Regions from separate parts of the Homo sapiens genome. Here all the other regions are linked to region 2. The links come from fine-mapping of genetic effects on gene expression. Tissue or cell type: fibroblasts. Region 2 holds a variant in brackets; each other region holds the start of a gene. All regions are shown on one strand. Distances are between the middles of the regions.

Evidence for each region. PIP is the estimated chance that this variant, and not a neighbour inherited with it, causes the effect.
Region 1: it holds the start of IRX2, and the variant in region 2 is fine-mapped to the expression of IRX2 in fibroblasts (GTEx, PIP above 0.99).
Region 3: it holds the start of MRPL36, and the variant in region 2 is fine-mapped to the expression of MRPL36 in fibroblasts (GTEx, PIP above 0.99).

What each region holds. Positions count from the first base shown.
Region 1 is chr5:2,747,842-2,755,928 of GRCh38, reverse strand. It overlaps IRX2 (iroquois homeobox 2), which reads left to right and starts at 4,252. Exons shown (of 4, transcript NM_033267.5): 1 at 4,252-4,764; 2 at 6,142-6,547; 3 at 6,877-7,584. The coding sequence starts at 4,516. It overlaps IRX2-DT (IRX2 divergent transcript), which reads right to left and starts at 4,036. Exons shown (of 4, transcript NR_122126.2): 1 at 3,465-4,036; 2 at 3,175-3,249; 3 at 2,574-2,644; 4 at 1-900. RefSeq lists enhancers at 3,213-4,137, 6,223-7,167, 7,168-8,087.
Region 2 is chr5:2,090,607-2,098,693 of GRCh38, reverse strand. It overlaps LOC105374618 (a long non-coding RNA gene), which reads right to left. Exons shown (of 13, transcript NR_171679.1): 8 at 2,052-2,168; 9 at 902-1,455. Among named protein-coding and RNA genes, the nearest start is that of CTD-2194D22.4, 210 kb to the right of the region's middle. The variant A/G (reference allele first, on the strand shown) is at 4,660.
Region 3 is chr5:1,795,144-1,803,230 of GRCh38, reverse strand. MRPL36 (mitochondrial ribosomal protein L36) reads left to right here and starts at 3,394. Exons shown (of 2, transcript NM_032479.4): 1 at 3,394-3,439; 2 at 4,284-4,846. The coding sequence starts at 4,296. The coding sequence ends at 4,607. It overlaps NDUFS6 (NADH:ubiquinone oxidoreductase subunit S6), which reads right to left and starts at 1,824. Exons shown (of 4, transcript NM_004553.6): 1 at 1,682-1,824; 2 at 857-910. The coding sequence starts at 1,813. RefSeq lists enhancers at 1,445-1,584, 1,028-2,015, 2,195-2,324, 2,385-2,434 and a silencer at 3,515-3,924.

The sequences.
Region 1 (8,087 bases), 660 kb before region 2:
CCAGGACTGGAGCTGCGGGGACCTTTCAGTCTTCCACGGATGCTCCTCTGCACGTGTTTTCCAGGAAAACATTTAGGCCTCGGAAGCGTCTTTGAGAGCCTAGAAATGCCGGTTGAGCGTGAAATCCAGTCCAACCTACTCACAGAGTACTAGACCTAGAAACGACGTTTGAAAGAGATGTGGGTTCCATGTTGACTTAAATTTTGTTCCATTTATAACAACGCTTTTGTTTTCAAAGAAAAGAAAAATTTCTTAGCCAAACTTCTCATGTCCCCGGCCCCCTGTTCCTGCCTCGCTCTCTCCCTCGACAAACGCGGGGAGCCCTGGAACGGGAGGGCCGGTGACCGCGAATACGGTAGCGATGTGATTTGATGCACTGAAACTACTTACATTTCCAATGTTACTTCATTAAAGGAAACCCACATAAAAGCGTCTGTTTCATCTTAATTGCCAAAAAAGTTTGCCACACCCCCGAACGGTAACTGTTTCCCCGCCAGACACCGAAAGCTCATAAGGAACCACAATGAGAAAGGATCAGGAGTCGCTTAGGTTTTATTGAAATGCCTCGATGCCGTTTTTTCTTCTTCCCCGAATTAAGCCGCCGGGGGAGGAGGTGGGTCGCGCCCACCGTTGCCGGGACTCGGGCCGGCAGACACGGGCCACAGCGCCCCCTCGCCGCCCGCGCGCACGACTCCTGGCCTGCGTCGCCTCCTTCCGTCCCCGCGACACGGAGGACGGCGCCGCGCCCGGCGAGCGCCCCGGCCTTCTCAGTCGGCCGCGTCCCCGGGGAGACCCCGAGCCCGAGCCTCCGGGGCCGGCTGTTCCTCGCGCTCGGCCTCGCAGGAAATCCCCGCTCGCTGAAACTTGCGTGTCCACGTAGACTCGTTCTAAATTCTTTGGCTGTTGCAGGGACAATAAAGAAAAATAGAAACAGTGTTAATTTTTTCCCCACCTCCTAGGGCACACCTAGGAAAGGGGGCAGGGCCCACCAGGAACCTGAAACTGCCCCCATCGCCTGGGTTATTGTGACCAGGGGTCGCGTTTGCAAAGCAGTTACTGGGTTTTCCCTGCGTGCCTGCTCATTCCCTCCCTCCTGCTCGGACGGCAACTGAAAAGCCTCAGAAGCCAAGTGCCGGGCTCTCCCCAGCGACCCCACAGGCCTGAGCACCCCGCCTCGCCCTTGAGCAAAACATCCCAGGCCCTCCTCTTCGGGAGCCGCGGCCTTGCAGCCCTCGTGGCCCCGAGACGGAGTCTGGGCTGAGCCCGCCACCCTCTCAGGCAGCCTCGCCGGGACCGCCGCGCCAAGACTCCACGCTGGCAGCATGTTTTCTCATGATTGATTTTTTTTTTTTTTAAGAAGAAGACCAAGCCAACTTTAACTTAAGAAGAAGGAATGTGATTTTTTTCTTTAATATCAGAGAGCTTTAAAGCAAAACGTAGTTTATATATTTCAATAACAATGACGAGTGTTAAGTTTTTAATGTCCCTGCGTAGGCATTTTAATTTGCTACAGTCACTACCAATAAAAACGGCATGTAGTAAGAGTCGACTGTTTAATAGTGCAAGGTAGACGGTTTTTATTAGTAACAGGCAGCAGCGGTATGGAACATATAGATTTCAGTGGAGGAGTATAATTGCTAAGGGGAAAATACACACAGGACGGGAAGAGGCCATCTTCAAACTCCCAACACTGAGCTAAAGAGGGGGAAGGGCAGGCGGCGTTTCTGGAGATGCACCCTGGGTGAGGGGACCCTCCCCGCCACTGCACGTGTCTGGTTATATATTTAATTGATGTCAGAATCGACTGTATCCAGAGCAGACACTCCAGCTCCAAACTGAGGATGTTTGTATAATAACTGGCTGTTTTCTCTTCTGCCCCTGGCAGAGGTCCGGCGGGGGGAGGGGGGTGGGTCAAGGGAGGGGGAGGGAGGATGAGCCCCAAATGCTAATGAAACCACAGCGGGAACCGCTCTTTAGAAATGGAAATACTCCAGGCCAGTGCTCCCTGGTGATAAAAATTACACCCGATTTTTTTTTCATTTAAACTGATCTGATCGTAAAGGAACCCTAAAGGTTGCCATCTGATCTGACAGTGTTTGTGTTTGCCATCCAGCGTGTGGGCCTCTCATTTACCCCTCTTCTTGGAGGAATTCCCTCCCAGGAAGCGCAAAAATGTCGCAGACTGTCGACGGCTTGCCCAACCCGGCTGCTTTCTCTCTCTCTCTGTTTTTCAGCTCTATAGTAATTGATTAAAAATATCTGTCCTGGACTGAATTAGGATGTCCCATGTGGAGTCGCAACAAGGTTGAAACCCCCCGCTGGGTCGTTGCAGGGGGCCCAGCCTGTGGGAACGGGGTGTCTGTGGGTGGAGGGAGAGGTGGTCGTGGGTGTGTGTGCGTGTGCGTGTGTTGAGATGGCCTGAAGAGGATGTGTGCAGGATGGGGGTGTGGTTTGTAGGAAGAGTGGTGGGGGAGCAGTGTGGGCGAAGGGGTGGGTGGGATAACTGGTAGGGGGCGAGTGGCTCGGCTCGGGAGCTCCTGGCGGGAGGGGTAACGTGCCTGGACCGCGCCTACCGGGAGCCTGCCGGCTCAGGAGGAGCCATCCTCAAGCACAGCACTGCAGTTTGCAACTGGTTCCCTTGCACCTGGGGAAAGACAGCCTGATGCCGTGAGTGTTTCTCTTGCGCCCTGGACCAGACTGGCAACCCGGGCTCCGCTCCCTCCGCGCCGCTGCAGCCGCACCACAGGGAGGCCGCAACATGCCCTGCGTCCTGAGATCACTAAGGCTGCTCCGCAGGCTGCAGGGCCAGCAGGGGTGCAGGAGTCGGCTGCAGGCCTGAGCTGAGGCCCGCCCCAGGCCACTGCGCTCTCTCTTCTCCACCGCACCCACCCGAGACGGCTTCCGAGGATAGAGGCACCTGCTGGGTGGGTGCTCCCAATAGGCCAGCACAGACCTGACACTCTTCCATCCCCCTGAGCGCCCCCCATAGGTGACCCTTCGGAGTGGGCAGCCAGACGCCCTCTTCGGCCATCCCCGAGTGGAAAAGGGTTGGAGAAGCGTGATGGGGAGAGGGTTCTAGGAAGCTGGGGTCCTAGGAACCCTCGCCAACCGCCTCGCTTCTGAGCCCCGCAAGGCAACCGCCCCCCTACTCCAGCCGCGCGTCACCTGAGCTACCTGTAATGCCCACTGCACCGGCGGCGCCAACCTGAGCTCCTGCCCGTTCTCGACGTGACTGGGAGGCTTCAGGTCCTGCCAGAGGCGGTTTGTCAGGTAACAATCATCCCCCCAGTGTTTTGACAACACAAATCTGAAAGAGGAGTCAACTTAGAAAAACAAAATAAAATAAAACTCTTTAGGGGACGGCGTCTTCTTAGCTGAAGCCCTGGCGTCATTCCCAACAGTGGAAAGTCGTAACGTTCAGGGCCCCGGGGGTTGCGCTGCGGATTTGGGGGCAGAAAGCTCACCTCAGGGCCCTCCTGGCAATTCGCAACCAAGGCGCCCCGGATCCAGGTCCATGCTGGGCGGAGTGGACCGCGAGGGGTAGGCGACCAGACGCGAGGCCACGCGGGGAGCCTCGGGCCAGGAGGCAGAGCAGGTCCGGGACCGTGGAAGTGAGAGCCGCGCGCACTGCCCGGAGGAAGACCCGAGCCGCGGGCGCCACCATCCTGACCTCCCCACTTCCCTGCGACTTCCGGATTGGACACAGGGGCCGGGCCTCCTCGGGGTGCACAGCGGGGCAGGCTGTGAGTCCCCTAATTGGACCCGGCCTGGCCTGACCGCGGGCGGCCTCTGCCTAGTCCGTGAGGGTGGAGAAGGGGGTGGGGGCGGGGTAGTGGCTGGAAGGGGCGGGGGCCGGGCAGGGGCGAAGACGGTGGCCGGGGACGGTGGGAGCCGGCCGGAGCCGGGCAGGGGACGTGGCTCCGAGTGGATGGGAGTGGGAGGGGTGCGCGCCGGGGCACGCAGCGCGGCCGGGCTGGGCTGCAGGTCCGCGAGCCGCGGGCTGGGGCCGGAGCTGCTAGAGAGGCGGCTGCGCCACAAAAGCCTGCCGGTCCCTCCCGCCGCCCGCCTCCGTCGCCTCCGCCCTCCCCCGCCTCCCTCCCGTCTCTCTGCCCCTCCCCCGGCCGCGGCCCGGAGGCTGCAGCGGGCGGAGCAGGGGAGGGGCGGGCCCCCGAATATGCAGATGAGCGCGTGATGGACAGCTGCGCGTTCCAATGTCCCTCGGAAACTCGAGCGCTCCTTCCTCAACTCCTCACTCCCGACTCCAGACTCCCCCAAACCCCGACCGCCGGCCTGGCGCGCGGCTGCGCCCACCGGCTCCGCGCTGCTGCCGCCGCCACCGCCACCCCGCCGCCGCCCCGGCCCGCGGGCCGCCCAGGCTAGTACCCGGGCCGGCCTGCCTCCGCCGGCCGTCCGGGTGCCCGCCGCCGCGCCGCGCCCCGGCCGGGCGTGGATGGAGGGCGCCGCGCGCCCTGCCCGCTGCTCGGCGTGACGCGGGCCCCGCGCCCCGCGCCCACCATGTCCTACCCGCAGGGCTACCTGTACCAGGCGCCCGGCTCGCTGGCGCTCTACTCGTGCCCGGCCTACGGCGCGTCGGCTTTGGCGGCTCCGCGCAGCGAGGAGCTGGCGCGCTCGGCGTCGGGCTCGGCGTTCAGCCCCTACCCGGGCTCGGCGGCCTTCACGGCGCAGGCGGCCACCGGCTTCGGGAGCCCGCTGCAGTACTCGGCCGACGCCGCCGCCGCCGCCGCCGGCTTCCCGTCCTACATGGTAACCGGGCGCGGGCGGGACGCGGGACTCCTGGGCGCCGGGACCCAGACGGGGCTCAGGCGGAGCGGGGCTCGGGTTCGGCGGGCGGGGGCCGCCGGGAATGTGGCGCGGCTGGCGACTCAGGAGTCGCCGGCTCGGTTGGCCGCCCCGCAGGCTGAGCCGGGCCCCGGGTGGGGAGGGCAGCGCGGCAGGCGGGGACGTCCCTGAGCCCGGCCGGGACCCGCGCGCCCCCCGCGCGTCCCCTCGGCTCGCCGGCTGATTTTCTCTGAGAGCCTGGGAAGTGCGTCTCCGCCGGGGCCGGGGTCTGGCGCCGTTTGTCCCTGGTTTCCGCACCGCAGCCTGGGGAGGCGTTCGGAGCGGGCTGTGTGCTCGCCTGCATTGGCGTGGGGCGCGAGGGTCCGCGTCACTGCGGCCTCTGAGCCGACGGCCGGGCGGTTCGCATTCACTCGCGGGGCTCAGGGCGGTGGGGGTCACCGAGTTAGGCCCAGGAGCCGAGCATTCAGCTGCGGCTCCGGAGTCCGGCCCGAGGCGCCCAGGTTTCGGCCTTACTCTGTCCAGCGGACCATGCTTTCAAATATCGTGCTTGCGGGCGCGTGACCCGCTAAGGGCCGCCTGAGTCCTCCGTGGCCCGAGCGCAGCTCCTGCTCCGGCGACCTGGGGGCGGCTCGCGAGTCTCGAGGTTACTGAGCTGGGCCAGGCCCGGGCCGCGGCGAAGCACGTTACGGGCGATTGAGGCCATTACGGGGTTGTCGCGACTGCCGGCCCTCGGCGGAATTTCTGGGCAGCGACCGAGTCGCTGGGGCCTTGGCGAAGGCTGCAAATGCCTCGAATTTAAACGTTAAAGGATGAATTAAAATGCTAATTACGGCGTATTTGAAGAATTCGAAACGGTGACTGGCTTCTGAGTTGCAAATTGGATTTGCCCAGCTTTAGAGCAGTGAATAGTGAATTGGGGGCTCTGGGGTGTTTTTTTAACCATATAAGGGAGGGGAAGAGGGAGTAGGGGGAGGCAGCCGCACTCCAAGCATCTGCAGAAATTTAGATATCAAAGAGCTACCTGTGGGCCTGTGTGCGCGCACGTGCAAGGGTTTGTGTACATTGCCACGAGCGGCTCCGGAACACTTAGGGGAAGATGGGTCATTTTAGGAAAGTGAAATAGTTCAGAAATTCGAGAATAAAACTCCGGTACTTTTTGTGATCAACAGCTGGTCCCGAATCACACTGCGTTTTTCCTGCTCTTTTGCGGCGGGAAGCGCAGCCCCAGAGCCAGACTCACGGGGGGAACGGTGGCCGTGGGCGGGCGGAGGGGTGGCATCCTCTGGCTGGTTGCCCGCGGGGTCTCCGCATACTCCACTCACAGGCTCTTGTTGGTTCCAGGGCGCACCCTACGACGCGCACACCACCGGCATGACCGGCGCCATCAGCTACCACCCGTACGGCAGCGCGGCCTACCCGTACCAGCTCAACGACCCCGCGTACCGCAAGAACGCCACGCGGGACGCCACGGCCACTCTCAAGGCCTGGCTCAACGAGCACCGCAAGAACCCCTACCCCACCAAGGGCGAGAAGATCATGCTAGCCATCATCACCAAGATGACCCTCACCCAGGTCTCCACCTGGTTCGCCAACGCGCGCCGGCGCCTCAAGAAGGAGAACAAGATGACCTGGGCCCCGAGAAACAAAAGCGAAGATGAGGACGAGGACGAGGGCGACGCTACCAGAAGCAAGGACGAGAGTCCCGACAAGGCGCAGGAGGGCACGGAGACCTCGGCAGAGGACGAAGGTGAGCGGGCAGCGGCCGGCGCAAGGTCTCGGGGCGCTTTCTTCCCAGGCGGGGCGCAGAGCTAAGGCGGGGAGGACGTTGCCCGCCGGACACCCCAGGTCCGGGCCGGAGCCCCAGCCGCACCACATTGCCCTGGGGTCGCCGGGATTTGAGCGAGCGATTCCTCGGGCCCTTCCCGGGGAGGTCAGGCTCCGCCTGTCACGTGGCCGGGTGGGGGCGAGGTGAGGGGTCCCGTGGGGAGGGCCCAGTGCCGCAGGACAGGGGGCGGAGGGGGCTCCAGGTGCCTGCGCTGTCCCCTCGTGCCACCCACCGTGCCCGCGCCCCCACAGGGATCAGCCTGCACGTGGACTCGCTCACGGATCACTCGTGCTCGGCCGAGTCGGACGGGGAGAAGCTTCCGTGCCGCGCCGGGGACCCCCTGTGCGAATCGGGCTCGGAGTGCAAGGACAAGTATGACGACCTGGAGGACGACGAGGACGACGACGAGGAGGGCGAGCGGGGCCTGGCGCCGCCCAAGCCCGTGACCTCGTCGCCGCTTACCGGCTTGGAGGCGCCGCTGCTGAGCCCCCCGCCCGAGGCCGCGCCCCGCGGTGGCCGCAAGACGCCCCAGGGCAGCCGGACGTCTCCGGGCGCGCCGCCCCCCGCCAGCAAGCCCAAGCTGTGGTCGCTGGCCGAGATCGCCACGTCGGACCTCAAGCAGCCGAGCCTGGGCCCGGGCTGCGGGCCACCGGGGCTGCCCGCGGCCGCCGCGCCGGCCTCAACCGGGGCACCGCCAGGAGGCTCGCCCTACCCTGCCTCGCCGCTGCTGGGCCGCCCCCTCTACTACACGTCGCCCTTCTACGGCAACTACACAAACTACGGGAACTTGAACGCGGCGCTGCAGGGCCAGGGTCTCCTGCGGTACAACTCTGCGGCCGCGGCCCCCGGCGAGGCCCTGCACACCGCGCCAAAGGCGGCCAGCGACGCGGGCAAGGCGGGCGCGCACCCGCTCGAGTCCCACTACCGGTCCCCGGGCGGCGGCTACGAGCCCAAGAAAGGTAGGCGGCCCGCGGCCGGCGGCGCCCGGGAGGGGAGGGAGAGCCAGCCCCGGGGAGGCGGAGCGCCCGGGAGACCCGAGGGAGGGTCCGGGAAGAAGATCCAGGGGGCCACTCCTGGGACCCAGAATTAGCAGAGTGAGGGCGGAGGGCGAGATGGAAGCCAAAGAAGGTGTGGCCCTCTTTTTAGACTTGCCCTGTTATTATTTATTTTTACTTAATTTACTGTTATTTTGACTATTACTATCGTGGCTGTCTTAGTTTCGGCAAACCCAGATTGCCACGAAATTCAAATTACAGCGTGTCGCCCTAATGAGCCTGGGTGTGTTTCGGTGTCTTGTTAAGGAGTCAGAGTTGAATCCGCTTTTCTGCCGTTGGCTAGAGGCAAACAGAACGTTCCAGTTACTCTCAGAGGCGTTTTGTCTTCAAAAGATAAAATCAAATGTTTTTTCCGCTTTTTGTTGTTGTCGTTGTTCGGAAAGAAAACCGTTTTTTCCCCTGTGCTA
Region 2 (8,087 bases):
TGATATTAAGCAGTTAGAGGGGTGGGTGTCCGTCGAGGCCCACCCAAGGAAGCCGTGCTCAGCACTGCTCCAATCGCTCAGTGAGCACCACAGCAGAAGCTGGGTTTTTTAAATAAATGAATACTATACAAGGTCAATCTTGAAGACTCTGCTTTTAAAAAGGAAGCACTTGTGGAAATTGCTGGAAATGATGCAGGCCAGGCCTGCGGAGAGCAGAACTCAGGGAGGCCTCAGGGGTGTGAGGTCCTCATGGGTCCTCCTCTGTGGCAGCTGAGCCCTGAGGCCTGAAGACCAGCTCGATGCCTGGTCCCCTCACCTGGCACCAGGGGCTGATCATGGACCAAAAAGGGCGTCATCCCCAGCGAGCGGCCATCAGATCTCTCTCCTTAAATGCACGTCTCCCATCTGGACTGCTTAGGCTCTCTACTAAGAATCCTAAGCCTTTCTGTGTTCACCTGCAAACAGGAAGTCCTAGGTCTTCATAATAAATAGCCCATAAGATCTAGAACTTGGGTCATGGTTAAACCTCAGTGAAGATGAGCAAGTTTATAGTAAAAGGGAATATGGATGAAAAAGAGCAAGACTGCAAGGAAGGAGAAGGACAAACGTGGGGGCTGGGGGAAGAGAGAGAGAAAGAGGGAGAATAAGAGGAGAGAGAGAGAAAGGGAAAGAGAGAGAGAAAGAGAAAGAAGGAATGAGAGAATGAGAGAGAAAGAGAGAGAGGAGAGCACTCTGTTCCCACACTCAGGTCCCTTCAGGAATGAACACAGGAAACTAGGCTGGACGTGAGGTCACTGTGCCTCATTTATCGCCTGCCTCTAGGAACTGCCACCCTTAGGTCATCTGGGAGATGAGCATGGGTTTTGTGATTTCATGAGGGAAGGAGAGGAAAGCAACCCACCTCAGCTCAGCAAAATCCTCATTCCAGCTCTCTGGATATCCTCGCACTCTGGATCCCCTGTGTGGCAGAAGTCACAGATCACCCAGAACAGGGGAACCTGCATTTTTCTAGCAAATTTGCTATTCCTGCCAGGTGAGCATCCTGCCAGGTGAACATCCTGCCAGGTGAGCATCCTGCCAGGTGAGCAGGTGCCTTCTCTGGCAGATCAATGGCAGCCTTGTGGCTTTCCAGCACCCATCGCCCCCTCAGCCCACTCCATTCTATCACAGGAAGAGCAAATCACATTTTGGGAGATGCTTGGTACCATAGAGGGCATCTCCTTAGGCACAGGTGCTAGGACAGTGCGCAGGGTCACCTGCGGCAGAGCCCACCATGGACCCCCTCCTCTTCTTGGCCCCACAACACCTCATCACAGGTCCTGAGGTCCTGGGAGATGCAGACCCTGGCTTTCCAGCCACGGCAGCACTCAGTCACTGTAGACGTGGTCGCCAGGGGACGAGGTCACAGACATTCTTTTGGTGTCGTCCGCTGGAGATATGATCACATGCTCAACCCTGAAGCAAGAGAAACAAACTGAGAACAGAATTGGAGGCGGGAACGGGGAGAGCCGCTACGATCCACCAGCTCACCTGTGGAGAGAGAACCAAGGAAAAACAGTATTGATTTTTTTTACAAGCCAGTGCACAGATTTGTCAGACAAAAGAATAGAGATGTCAACCCCTGGACCCGCTCTCCAGCACGGCAGGCCTTCAGGCGGCCAGAGCCAAGGCGGCACTCCGCGACTCCTGCACTGGCTGCAGAGGGGATGGGCAGTTTGATGAAAGAAGGAAACGCCAGCCCTCGCACGGATATGCGTGTCAGTAACTCCCACCTGAGCAGAGCTCAGAGATGCTTCCAGCACAGCCCAAGAGAGGTGGCTCCCTGGTCTCAGCATCTGCCGAGGTTACCTCTCTCCTCTGGGGGCTGTGGGAGGCGCTTCTGCACGGGGTCACAGGAAGGTTTTGGATGTTTACCTGAAGGGCGGTTCTGTTAGAAAACTCCAAAACCAACGGACATTTTAGATTTCAAAGAGAATCCAGTACAACGTATTTTCATCTCCTAACCCAACAAAAGGGAATCTGAGCTGATTATTAGAAGTTTACTCTTTTACCTGGCAGGGGGCAAAGAGCATAGACATCCCCAGGTCTCCAGATGCACAGGTGGAGGAATTCGTCCACTAACGCACCCTCGGAACAAACACCTGAACACACAGGAAAACTCGGTGTATCTGGAGAAGGAATGTGTTCGTTAATTGCATTTTTGAATATCTAGCTAAGCACAACATCCCTTTAGAGTCCACCTGTCCTTTAAAATTCTTTCTAAAATAAATCTGACAATTTTCCTGATCTGCCATGCTGAATAGTTTGACGACATTGATCATTTGGGGAAATCGTGGCTGTCAGAGGCCATTCAGAAAATAATATTATGAGGATGAAGGACCACAGGTAGGGAGCCCCATAGAAGAGTTGGAACTGCTTCATTTTTGTGTTTACTCCTTTATTCAGGCTTGATAGGTTTCTCTGAGTTTTACCTTCCTCTTTCTAAGAAGGAAACTGCTGTCATGTAATTTAAAGTTCCCGTTGGTCATTTCTAATGAATAAAAGGTTACGAATGTCGAGTAGTAGTTGGGTGCCATGTAAACTAGTTCAACCATTGTGGAAGTCAGTGTGGTGATTCCTCAGGGATCTAGAACTAGAAATACCATTTGACCCAGCCATCCCATTACTGGGTATATACCCAAAGGACTATAAATCATGCTGCTATAAAGACACATGCACACGTATGTTTATTGTGGCACTATTCACAATAGCAAAGACTTGGAACCAACCTAAATGTCCAACAACGATAGACTGGATTAAGAAAATGTGGCACATATACACCATGGAATACTATGCAGCCATAAAAAAGGATGAGTTCATGTCCTTTGTAGGGACATGGATGAAGCTGGAAACCACCATTCTCAGCAAACTATCGTAAGGACAGAAAATCAAACACCACATGTTCTCACTCATAGGTGGGAATTGAACAATGAGAACACATGGACACAGGAAGGGGAACATCACACTCCGGGGACTGTTGTGGGGTGGGGGGAGGGGGGAGGGATAGCATTAGGAGATATACGTAATGCTAGATGACGAGTTAGTGGGTGCAGCACACCAACATGGCACATGTATACATATGTAACAAACCTGCACATTGTGCACATGTACCCTAAAACTTAAAGTATAATAATAATTTAAAAACAAATGGGTGGTCAACATTCTAACCTCTAAAATAATAGTTTCTGACAATACGATTGCTACATTTTTGAAAATTATCATAGCTAGGTCATCATACTTGGCATATACTCAAGTATGTTCTTTCATGTACATTTCTTAAACATGCATGTGTCTCCTGTGACATTTAGAGAAATGTCTCCTTAGACGCAATATTTCAAACATTAGAAAGTGCGGTCGCCTAAATTGCATTCACAGAGCTCCCTCGGCGGGATTCCTGAGTGCGATCCTGGGCGATCCCCCCACCGCGGTTTCTGGAAGACTCTGATGAACGCATCCACCAATGGGTGGGGAAATGAGGTCAGCATCCTGTGGTTCAAGGATCCTAGGATCAGTGACTGGGAGTTACAGGTTTGGGCATCACTCAGCATAAGTGGCTGTGAAACCCTAGGGCAGCGTCCCCTCTGAAAGCCCATCTGCTCGGACATGAAGTGCAGAAACTTGGGGTGAGTTGGGACACAGCTGGCTGCCCTGCCCAGCCTTGAGCTTTGGTTTTGCAGGAAGCCGGGTCCCAGCTAGTGGAGCGGGCTGCACTGTGGCCAGGGCGAGGGCCCAGCCCGGCTCCCCACCCACCGTCTGGTGACTGGGCCACGGCGCTGGGACTCGAGCGCTCCTAGTTCACAAGCCACCACCTCTGATGGGGAAACCAGACAGACGTGGCCAGAACTGGAGCACACCTTGTCCTTTCCCAGCCAGGGGACGCCAGTGTTCCTGTGGCCGGGGCCAGGGCTGGCCTGGCCGCCTCCTCCCCGATCCTGTCTCCTCTGGTGATGAGTTGTGTTCTCTTGGCAGTGGAACTCCCTAGAGAGTGGAAAACGTCATGCACTGACAACAGAAACAAAGTACAATGTTATCATGCAGTCAATATTTGATGGCCAAAGGCACAGTAAGGAATAATCTGAGTTAAAATAAAGCAGGGAATTGGATACATCAAAGAGTTTAGTGTTATCAGCCATTAAGGAAGGCAGCAGTGAGGCCACCACACAGCAGTGGCCTGGACAGACAGCCCTCCGTGCAGGCGTGTGCCTGTGAGCACCTACACATGCGTGGGGCACACCGGCTCCGGCGTCACACACTCCTGGACGTCCACTCTTGGTGAATCCTCACACAGACCTTTCCTGCCGGGATTAGGGCTTCCTTTCGGTTTTGTGTATCATGTGACACCCTCTGTCACTTGTGAGTGGCTTCCCACCATCTGAAAAGGTGCAAACTCATGGCCCACATCAACGACGCCCCGTGCCAGGACGCTCTCCCATGTGAAAGCTGGCTGAAGTCCTCGGTCTGCCCACGTCAACGACACCCCGTGCCAGGACGCTCTCCCATTTGAAAGCTGGCTGAAGTCCTCAGTCTGCCCACGTCAAAGACACCCCGTGCCAGGACGCTCTCCCATGCGAAAGCTGGCGGAAGTCCTCGGTCTGCAAGGCCATGAAGGAAAATTCTAGT[A/G]ACTAATTCCCACCAAGTCATCATTTAAGAATTGTTTTGAAGTTCTGCTGGAACACAGTGTGCATGGGTTTATATTACATTTTTGTTAGCTTTGTAAGTGGTGTATGAATCATGTTTGTTTTTATAAATGGTTGCTCTGGAGTTGACAATACACAGCATTAACTTATCAAGAATACCCAAGAATAACAAATAATATGGCATCACTTCCCATGTAATTTAATAATCTTACAACTGCCTGGTTCCATTTCCCACCTCCCAGCCCTTGTGCTATTGTTAGCAGACATTTTGCTTCTACTTATAAACCCCAAATGTATTATTATTACTGTTTAAAACAATGTTCAATAAAGAGATTTCAAAATACGGTAAAACACGCTTTGTATTTGCTGATGCATTTTACACCCACTCCTGTTCCTTTGTGTAGACCCTCATTTTTATTTCTTATCATTTCCCTCTGTCTGGAAACCAACTCTAAAATGTCCTTTAGTGCCTGGTGGTGCCGGCTGCTGACAGTGGCGTCTCTCTACTTTTGTATGTCTGAGACAGTCTTCACGTTGCTTCTATTTTTTAACAGCCTTATTGAGGCTGAATTTATATAAGAATTATACAATTGATATATACATTATACACATTTAAAATATAAAATTGGATAGATTTTTAAAGATGTAAAAACCCATAGAAAACACTGAATCTATCAAAATCAGGATATTATCCATCTCCTTGGGAATTTGCTTTGTGATAATGTTTTGAAATTGTTCCTTCTTACTCCTCCCCTCTCCCCCACCCTCCCTAGGCAATCACTGATTAACCTCTGTCTCTAGAGATTCATTTGCATTCTCTGTAATTTTATAAAATAAGATCATAATTATGTATTATTCTTTGTCTGGCTTTTTGGCTCAGCATAATTATTTTGAGATTTGTCCATGTTGTATGTCTCAACGGGTTTTTTTTAACCTTTATATCACTAAGTATTACTCCCCTGAATGGATGTATTAGTTTTTATCCATTCACTTGTTGATTAACATTTGGGTCATTTCTGGTTGTTAGCAATTACAGGTAAAGCTTCCATGGACATTTGTGTTCAAGTCTTTATAAACACACATGTTTTCATTTCTCCTGGGAAGTACATAGGGATGGAATTGCCATGTCAGATGGTAGTTATGTGTTTAACTTTTGAAAAAAAAACTATTTGCAGTATATTCATAACTGTGAATACACTTAATGTCACCGAACTATGCAATTAAAATAGGTTCGATGGTAAATTTTATGTTGTGTGATTTTTACTACAATTTTAAAAATAAAAATAAATAGATTTGAATGAAAAAAAATTAATGACAACACGTCGCCTCTCTTAGACTAGTCATTGTGCCATAATATCCATTATTTGCATCTATTACTAACGTAGTGAATACTTTTGAAGATCCATAAATGCTCTTAGATCAATAAATTCAGCTATTTCACTTTTTAATTACAGTATGATCAAGCATTTAGATCAATAGTAAAAAAGTCTTCCTTTGACTGATTGTCTCATGTATTAAATAGTAAAAACTGTCTTCATTTGACTGTTTCATGTATTAAAATATTATTACACATTATATATGATTTAAAAAGGAAATATACTATATCAGACCTTCAGGAAAATTTGACCTAGTTTACAGGAAACAAAAGATAATATAATTGAAAATTCAACAAAAGTACCCAATACAAGATTTTGACCAACAAGTATAGAGTATTATATTAAAAGATTCTTCACAATAGGCTGAGGTGGGCTTCGTGCCTCTGGTTTCTGCTGCGGTCTCATCTCAGTCTGCCAGGAACACTGGAAGCCATTTAACACCCGCTAAGATTTGCTTCTCCTTCTCCAGTCCTTTCTGATGTGATGTTATTCACACTTTTCTTTCAAGGACAGAATGCAGCTACTCACTTTAAAAACGTGCTTTGGAGCAGGAACATCTAGGGACACTGCTGCCTGATGGCCACTTAAGTGCTCAACCAAGCAGCTGTGTGTGGCTTGTGTGAAAGACTCAGAAGCAAGCTGCCAGGTGAGAAGGTCAGTGGGAAAAAGGAAAACTCATGTTAAATATGTGTGAAATGTGTGTAGAAAAGGCAGGCAGAACAAAGCTGCCTTAGAAATTCTATGAAGTCTAACACTTTGTCTAACACCCACATATTAAGTATTACACAGTAGTGTTTTGTCATTTATTGTATAATCCATACTTACTTACCTTTTGTTTGAAAATGTTTATATAATTTTGCAATAAACCCCTATACCATTAATAGGCTCAAAAAATAATATTAGGAGATTTTAAATAAAAATGGAAAATACAAAACTAAAAAAAATATAAAACTTTTCCAAAGCGGTTGTAACATTTAATATTTTAACCAGTGACATGTGAGCATTCCAGTTCCTATACAGCCTCACCAGCACCTGGCGTCATTAGTCTTTTTAATCTTAGCCATCTAATAACTGTGCAATCATGTCTCATTGAGGTTTTAACTTGCATTTCTCTAAGAGCTAACGGTATTGATCATCTTATCATGGACTTATTTTCCATTCACACATTTTCTATGGTGAAGTGTCCATTCAAACCAATAGATCATTTTTAATCACTGTCTCTTTTCATTTTATAGAGTTTTAACAGTTATCTAGCTAATCTGGTTAAAAGTCCTTTGCTGTATAAGAGAAGCAAATATTTTCTTCCAGCCAATGGCTTGTCTTTTCATTATACTAGCTGTGTTTTTCAAAGAGTAAGTGTTTTAATTTTTATGAAGTCATATTTATCATATTTGCTTTTATAGACCATGCCTTTCTTGTCATATTTAAGAAATCGTTGCCTAACTCAAGGTCACGAAGAATTTCTCCTAATTCCTTCCAAAAATGTTATGGTTTTAGCCTTTACATATAAGGCAATAATCTATTTCTGTGAGATGTATGGATCAAAGTATATTCTTTGCATGTGGCTATTTAATTGTTGTAGCGCCATTTCTTTAAAAGGCTGCCTTTTCTCTGCTAAAATGCCTTTGCATTCCTTTTAGAAATCAGTTATCTCTATAGGCTGTTGTCATTTTCTGGACTCTCTATTCCATTCCATTTATCTAGTTGTCTAGCTTGATGCCAATATCACACTTTCTTGATTATTGTAGTTTTAAGTCTTAAACTAGTGTTCATCCTTCAGCTTTATTCTCTGCTTTCAAAGTTGTTTCCACAATTAAAAGCCCTTTGCAATTTCAAATTAATTTTAGAATAAGTTCATCAATTTCTACAAAAATAAAAGCTTGCTAGTACTCATTGAGATAACATTGAATATGTAAATTTGGGAAGAAATTAAAACAATACTGAATTTTTAATCCCAAGAACATGATATATCTCTCCATTTGTTTAGATGTTCCTTAATTTCTCTTGGTGATGCTTTATGGATTTTAGTACACAG
Region 3 (8,087 bases), 300 kb after region 2:
GATCATGTGAGCTTTTCTGGAATGCCCTGTAGCTCTGGAATAGACGTACAAAAACTACACACTGGGAATGGATAACGTAACCAAGATTGAAGGAGAAGGGAAAATACATGATTTAGGGATAGCTACGGTGTTAACAAGAAGAACACCAGGCTAACCAAAGTGGGAAAAAGAATGAATAAGGTGGCTGTGAAGGACACTTCACAGCATCCTTCAGGAAGCAAATTCAGGAATCATGGAGGCATGCCTGATCTAATTACGAATTCAGGAGCTCATTGACATGAGTGATAGAGAAGGAGTCAGGTAAAAAAAAAAAATAGGCTGATTTAGGCAGAAGGATTCTAATTTCAACATTCTTTCTCCAGTGGTCACTCACAGGCACCTGAACTGATCTTCCCTTACAATGCATAGAGCTAACAGACCCACTAAGGGAAGAAAAACTCATGTGCCATTTTCAGCTTGTCAGTGTAAGTCCCTGTAAAAAACACACACTAATTTATTTGGTGAAAACTATAAAAAACACACCTCCAGGTGGTTAAAAGAATAATTTTTTTAAAGTTGATATGATTTACTTAAATCTGAGAGTCTCAGGAGAATAAGGGACAAGAATTTTAAAAAAGATCACTTCCATTTATATGCAAACCAGAACTACGGCTACAATGTTATGTATTTCAGGGGGAAACAAGTCAGAAATAGACACAATTAAGATTTTAAGAAAGGAAGAACCCCATCCAGAACTGTTAGGGTGCTTGCAATATGGGGAAAATTTATTTAAATCTTATATATTAATTTTTATTTCTTGTTGGTTACATAAAAGTTTTAGGAAAGCTTACCTCTCTTCACTAGATTTTTTACTCACCTCTTTCTGACGACCTACAAACCGAATTCTCCTGTAGTCTTTATCATCATAAACCTGGAAAAAAACAAAAAGACCATGTGTGACTTTTACGGCCTAATTCTGAAAGTCACTTCATATCAATCATAAATATTACAGGAAAGTGTTTTTCTTAACTTTTAGGCCATTGATGAAAAGTCAAACAAGTGCACAGTACTCGGTGTAATCAGGGGCATTTTTAGCGAGATACCTGGGATGAAAACGGGTGGTCACCTGGATCAGAGAGCAGCACAGAGACATAGCCCGGGAAGGTGGAGCTAAGGAGGAGAGACAAATCCTGACCGAGGAGAACCGCCCCCAACCTTCTTTGGCATATGGCCTGAGAGCTTTACTATCCCCCCATTAAATCTACTAGGGCACATTCCAGTATACACAGGTACCTTTGTTCTTCATTTTGGCTTAGGGCTTTTTTGTGCCTTGGACTACAACCGACTTCTCAGGTTACTAAAATTTATTATTGAATATTACACAAATTCTAAACGTTCTGACCCAAATAATCGGCTGCCACAAATCGCCTATGGGCAGCCAGTCCACAGCAAGTGCTGCCCGCTGGGGAGACTTCCCGTTCCAGAGCCCGCAGGCCCTGGAAGGACGAGACCCACCGCTACAGGCTGCCACCACCGTCCCGACTCGCGGGCGTCCTCCCCGGCGCGTGAGCGACAGCACAACCTTACCACGACCTGCGCTGCCGGCGCAGAACCAGGGCCGCGGATGCCCGGCGAGCCCACTGCCACCAGTCGCCCGAGGTGCGGCTGGAGGAAGGTGCATCCTGTACCCAGCGGCCGTTACCTGGCCAGTGTGCGTGACCTTCTCCCCGGTCGGCGAGACCCGCACCCCGAAACACCTGGCGCCCAGGGGCAGGCTCCGCGCCGCCTCGCCACACCGGTTCAGCAGCCGGCAGAAGGTCATCGCCGCCGCCATTTTGCGCCGCTGGCCTTTGACCCGGCGCAACGTCCCGCTTAGCGCTAACGCATGCGCACGGCTTCTGGCGGCGCCAAACACCCGGTATTTATTTCGCCCTGGGGGCGGGGAGCGCGGGTCGGGGCAGAGGGTGCGCCGGAGCTGCTCTCTGATTCAGGTGGTCACCCGTTTTCATCCCAGGTATCTCGCTAAAAATGCCCCTGATTACACCGAGTACTGTGCGCTTGTTTGACTTTTCATCAATGGCCTAAAAGTTAAGCGGCCCCGTTGCGCCGGCAGGTGCAGCCTCATGCAGTTGCAGCCGCAGGCTAGAGCTAGGGCCCTGATGAGGCAGGCAATGGTGTGCGAAACCTTCAGCGATTAGGAGTACCCAGTGGTTCTTATTTAGCGGACAGGCAGGGGAGGATGTAAACTGAAAATACATTGTTTATATTCTTATGGTAACCGATAATCATGAGACATTTAAATATCAAAATTATTGGGTGAAGGAGTCAACTGCTTAGCAGACGAGACTGGAAGTGCATTCTCCTCGTTCAAGGCAAGCGTTCCTGTGTGTGGTTACGGGGAGCCGCAGAGGAAACGTATATTGGGGATTTCTGCAACAAAGCCTAGTACACCGACTGATTTTACAGCATGCAAATACAGCCTCTAAAAAGGCCCGTTTTGCTTAGAGTTGACTTGGGTATAAATCCCAGCTTAAGCTCCAGCATCCAGCTTTTCTTTTGCTGTGGTCAGAGCCTGAGGACCACGTGACTCCAAGAACAAAACACTAGAGATGGATGAGTGGCGGGGAAGATGATAAAGAGGAGGAAAGGCATGAGAAACAAGAATGCACATGAAAACCTCCGGTCCCAAAGATGTCCCAGCAAACGTGGTGGTCAGAGGCAGATTTGTCCTGGAGCTGATAAACTCCAGCGGCCCGCCCGGTGTTCGCCGGGTCAGGTGGAAAAAGTGGGCGCTGCGATGAAGCGTTGGGGCCTGCAGGGAGCGCGGAGTGGACGCAGCCACGTCTGCAACTCACCCGGACACACACAAAAAGGAAGGCGAATGGAGTTACGGGTAGATACCTGAAAAGGCAGGGATAAGCGAGCTAAGGGTAGAATCTAGGTGGCAAGTATATGGGTGTTCACCGTACAGTTCTTTCCCTTTTTCTCTATGTCCGAAGTTTTTCATAATGTTGGGGAAAACAGCCGTAACCAGTTGAAACTACTGCCCGTCTCCACTCGTTTCCCGGAGCCTGTTTACATTTCTCCTGTCCACTTAAAAACATGTCCTCTTTCTCAGTTTGTTTTGACATTGGTATTTGCCAGTTTTTTCTAAGGCCTAAGTGGTTGTAATTTCTTTTTCGTTGCGGATATCCATTTTCGTTCCTGGTTTTTGCATTTTTTTTCCCGAGAGCGCTCCAAACAGCACGACGATCCCGGTGGCCCGCAGAGTGCGCGCAGTCGGGGAGTGATACGTCGCACTCCAGCGCCTGCGCACTCGCTGCTGCGTCTCTGCGCCCCGCACTGGACGTGGGCACGCCACGTGACCCCCCCCCCCGCCGCCATCTTCCTTCCTGGCAGCAGCGTCCGCGTGCCAGTGCGCAGACGCAGGGGTCGGCGCCGGGTGAGAGCGTGCGGCCGGGTAAGGGAGCCGTCTTCTCAGGTCAGGGGTCCCGGGTGTCTTGAGAGTGGGGGCTGCGAGAGGGTGGGGCCGGCCACCTTGGGACCCTCGGGCGTGTCTCCCCGAGTGGGCTGCGGTCAGAGGAGCGTGGGCCGGGGCCTGGCGGTCTCAGAGGGCCAGGGTTGGGGGGTGCGGGTCCGACCGTGGGCGCCCGACCTGGCGACAGGAGGGGGTGTCCAGCGACCCCGGGGCGGGAGAACTGGCGGCTCCCGAACGCGACCTCACAGCCCGCGCGCAGGGCCGGCTCCGGTGCCGCAGTGTCCTCCGGGCCCTGCAGGCCCAGCTCTTCCCAGCCGGGGCCGCTGAACCCTAAGGGCCGGGGCGCGTGGGGAAGCAGGGGCGGGCGACCGGGGTGCCAGAGTTCCGTGCTCTTCCGGAGCGGGGGCCTGTCCCGAAACTGGCCCGAGGGAGGGCCCCTGGGTCTGGGAAGAGTTGGAGGGAGGAGCTCATCAGTTGAACCGTCCTTGACCTGGTGTCTGTTTGGAAAGGGATGCGGCCTAAGTTTAAGCTCCCTCCCAGCCAAGTGAGCGGCTCCTCAACATCGCAGGGCTTTGCACACTCACCTACACTTGCAGCAGGCGGGAAAGGGAAGGAAGCCACCGTCCACTGCCCCTTATTCTCCTGGCACACTTGGCTGATTAAGGCAGTGTTCAAGCTCAGGTCGAGGCTGCAGCTGGTATGGGAACACCCTCAGTCCCCGAGGTCCCTGCCTTCCCAAGCCTCAGTGAAACAGAGAAAAGGAAGCCTTAAAGAGCAGGTGGAAGTGCAGGAGAAGCTATAACTCCTTTTTTTCTCTCTCCCATAGATTCACCACAACATGGCAAATCTTTTTATAAGGAAAATGGTGAACCCTCTGCTCTATCTCAGTCGTCACACGGTGAAGCCTCGAGCCCTCTCCACATTTCTATTTGGATCCATTCGAGGTGCAGCCCCCGTGGCTGTGGAACCCGGGGCAGCAGTGCGCTCACTTCTCTCACCCGGCCTCCTGCCCCATCTGCTGCCTGCGCTGGGGTTCAAAAACAAGACTGTCCTTAAGAAGCGCTGCAAGGACTGTTACCTGGTGAAGAGGCGGGGTCGGTGGTACGTCTACTGTAAAACCCATCCGAGGCACAAGCAGAGACAGATGTAGACCCTTTCCCTCCAGAGTCACGCACATACTCGTCATCGCATCACTTGGGAGAATGGTTGTATCTTATGGAAGGAATTATCACATCAAGGAGTCAGGGGAAAGTGACTGGAAGCAAACGCCCTAAAAGTTACCCATCACGTTTCAGTGTAAATGAGTAACTATAGAAGACATTGCGTTATCTTATTTCCAAAACGTTCCAACTAAAAAACATTTTCCTATTAAAATAGACCTTCCGAATAGCTTAGTTCATTCATTCTCTCTGAACTCAGGCTGCAGGTAGGGATTGGATGGTGCTGGGTGAGGCTGGGCAGGACTTCTCTATGTCTCCGTGAGGCTGCTTAGAGCCTCTTGGAAGAAGTGGTGTTTTGGTCACCCGTCGCTGTACAAGCCAAGGCTTGGTGGCTTAAATCAGCCATTTTACATTGTTCACGATTTTGTGAGGCATTTGGGATGGGCTCAGCTGAGCAGTTTGTCTGATCTGTGTGGCATTAACTGCAGGACCCACTTCCAAGATGGCACCGGCTCTCCTGTCTGGGGTCTCAGTGCTCCTCAGGCTGTACGTAGCACCTCCTCAGGCAGGGCCCACAGCGTGGCTTGCACTGCCCCACAGTGAGCTTCCCGAGAGTGTCCCGAGAGACCCAAGCAGATGCTACGAGGCTTCCTATGACCCAGCCTCAGAAATTCCAGCGTGTCATTTCTACCGCACTCTTTCAGTCCCTAGGGTGAGCCCAGATTCAGGGGGAGGCAAGGAGCTCCCCTTGCTAGAGGATGACCACACCTACAACTGGTAAGGACTTGGAGGGATGGAGTGGGCTGGTCCTTCCCTGGTCATCGGGATTCATAGTTGAGTGAGCCCCATGCCTTGGGGGAGCACTGTCATCAACATGAATTTGGGGGTGGGGAGCACAGTCCAACCCAGAGCAGATGCTGAGATGCGACAGCCTTCTCACGGCTCCTTTCCTCCTGGCCAGGGACACCTCCCCTTCTCCCAGAAAGGAGTTTTGTGAGACAGGAGACCACGCAAGAAGCCTAGCGCGGGGGGAGCGCCCTCCTGCCCAGATCAGCAGCAGGGGCGCAGCAGGGTCACCCAGAAAGGCCTGGTGGGGCGGCAGAGGGGGCAGCATGGCCACATGAGGGCCAAAGCTCCTCCCCAGCACCCACATCACTTCTCCAGGGGGAGCAGACGCCGGTGTGTGTTGCTGTGAACTCTGTGCTGTGCCCATTCACCCTCACAAAGGGCCTCTGCAAGCAGCTTGACATGGGCATTGCAGCCCGCAGGCGTCTGGCCAGTTGAAGAAGGTGGAGAGCGTTATTACCTGAAAGAAAAGGGAACCAGCTCTGCGAAGAGCCTGCTTCTGTTGTGCAGTGAAAGGGAAGCCCTCTCTCGAGCCGTTCTTAAGTGAGGAGTTGATGCACTAGAGTGTCTGTCACGGGGGCCCCTGAAAGTGTCAGAAGCCAGACCCCACTAGGAGACCTGTTATGCACTGGGGCTGAGAATAGTTCAGCAAGAGAGAGGACTTTCCTCAAGCGTGTGTGTGTGCGTGCATGTGTGTATATGGCACGTGTGTGTGCATGCATGAGTGTGTCCACATATATACGCGTGTGTCTGCATACACTACCTGAACAGGCAGTGTGGGAGGGTGTGATGGGTCAGTGGCACCGCTGTAGTGACCCTCAGCAGACTGCAACCTTCAGCCAGCGTGTGCTGTCCATGTCTCTGATCTCTCACGGGGTGGGTGATGTGGTTTTGAGAACCACAGGGTCCTGACAGCCCCCAGCATGGCTTGCTGATGCTTCCCGAGCACCCTTAGCCTGGGCCCTGGGGTGAGGAGGAGAAGAGGTGCTGCTGCCCTCACACCCTTACTGCGTAGGAGCGTGTGAAACAGGCTGGTGAGTGCTGTGTGTGAAGCATGCCAGGCCCTCCAAGGCAAGAGGTCAAGGATGCTCCCTGCAGGGGATGACGGCCAAGCTGAAACTTTGGTTGCAGGGGAGGCAACCCGAGGAGGGGCCTGAGGCTGGGCACGGGCAGGGGGCATCCAAGCCATCCTGCGTGGATGAAAACTGGGTGTGTTTCTGCAGTACGCAGTGCTCTGGGGGGAGACCTGACCACCGGCTGCATGCCTGCAGTTGGGTGTGATGTGCTTACGTGCCATGCAAACGTGGGCACACAGTCGTGGCCTCTTGACAATTGCACAGACAAATCCCCAGCAAGGCAGCGTGGCACAGGAGCCAACAGGAAGGAATAAAGAAGGCATGGATTTCATGGCACGCTTGATCCAACGGGGAAAGGTGGGATTCTGCTAATTTTGCTTGAGTAGAAATCTAAGGCTGATAATTACCTATCCAGGCTTCAGTCCAGAATAAGTGATTAATAAAAGAATTCTGCAGAACCAGGCCAGGAATCCTGGGCATCGGCACTGTGGACATCTGGGGCTGGGTTGTGCTCCGGGCCCATCCTGGGCACTGCCGGGTGTTCAGCATCCCTGGGCTCCACCACAAGATGTCGGGAGCACCCCACACACAAGCAGGGCCAACCAAAAGTGCCCCAGACACTGTCAAGCACTCCCTGGGGGGCAACACGTTTCCCCATCAATGAACCAGGGTTGCTGCCGCCTGCCATGACGAGGGCTGGGATGCAGGTGCACCACTGGGAGGTGATCTCGGAAGTCAGGATGGGGAGTGGGGATGTGAGTCAGGGAGGGAGAGGAGCTTCCAGGGCACAGAACCAGAGCGACACCGGGTGCCACCTTGTTGTGTCCCCTGAGCTCTGGCGGAATGGACCTTGGTGTCCTGTAGGGGATGAGGACTGGGGGGGGGGGGGCGTTTATCCACAGATGCTCGTCACTGGTGGTTGAGGGTGACCGTGTGGGGACTTAAATCCCAGGCACTTCCAAGCCACCCAAAGGTGGGCTGAGCAGGTCCTCATGGGCACAGAGAAAGGCGACTGCAGAGAGAGGAGGAGTGGGCACGTGGGCCGGCAGGGTCATCCTGTCAGGAGCTGTCCCTGCACTCGCGAGACCTACGGGTGGCCTGGGGCCCTGCCAGATGCCAGCCCTGTCTTGCCAATGTCCTCCCTGTCTCCTGAAGGTGTGGTGCCAATGAACTGAAAGACGGATTGAAAATACTGTGAGAAGTTAGAAGTGCTATTCAGGTGTACGTTATTAGGTTATTCTCTGAGGGACTTTTAAAGTAAGATCAACTGGGGACAGCAGTGCAAGTGAAGGAAGAGTAAATGATGCCCAGATGGAGAGAAGAACATAGGAGCTGTCTATGCATTTCCAGAAGGAGGCGAGGTGCTCTGTGGGACGCTGTCATGTTTGTATCCACCTAGGAGGCTACTCACGGACCAGGTCTAACTGATGGACCACCCACCTGGCAGCGTCGCTGTCACTCACCCAGGAGAGTGGGAGGCGAGACCGGCACTCCCAGGGTCCAGGTCTCCTTCCTGTGCCGGACCGGTGGGGGCTGGGGCTTCCCTGC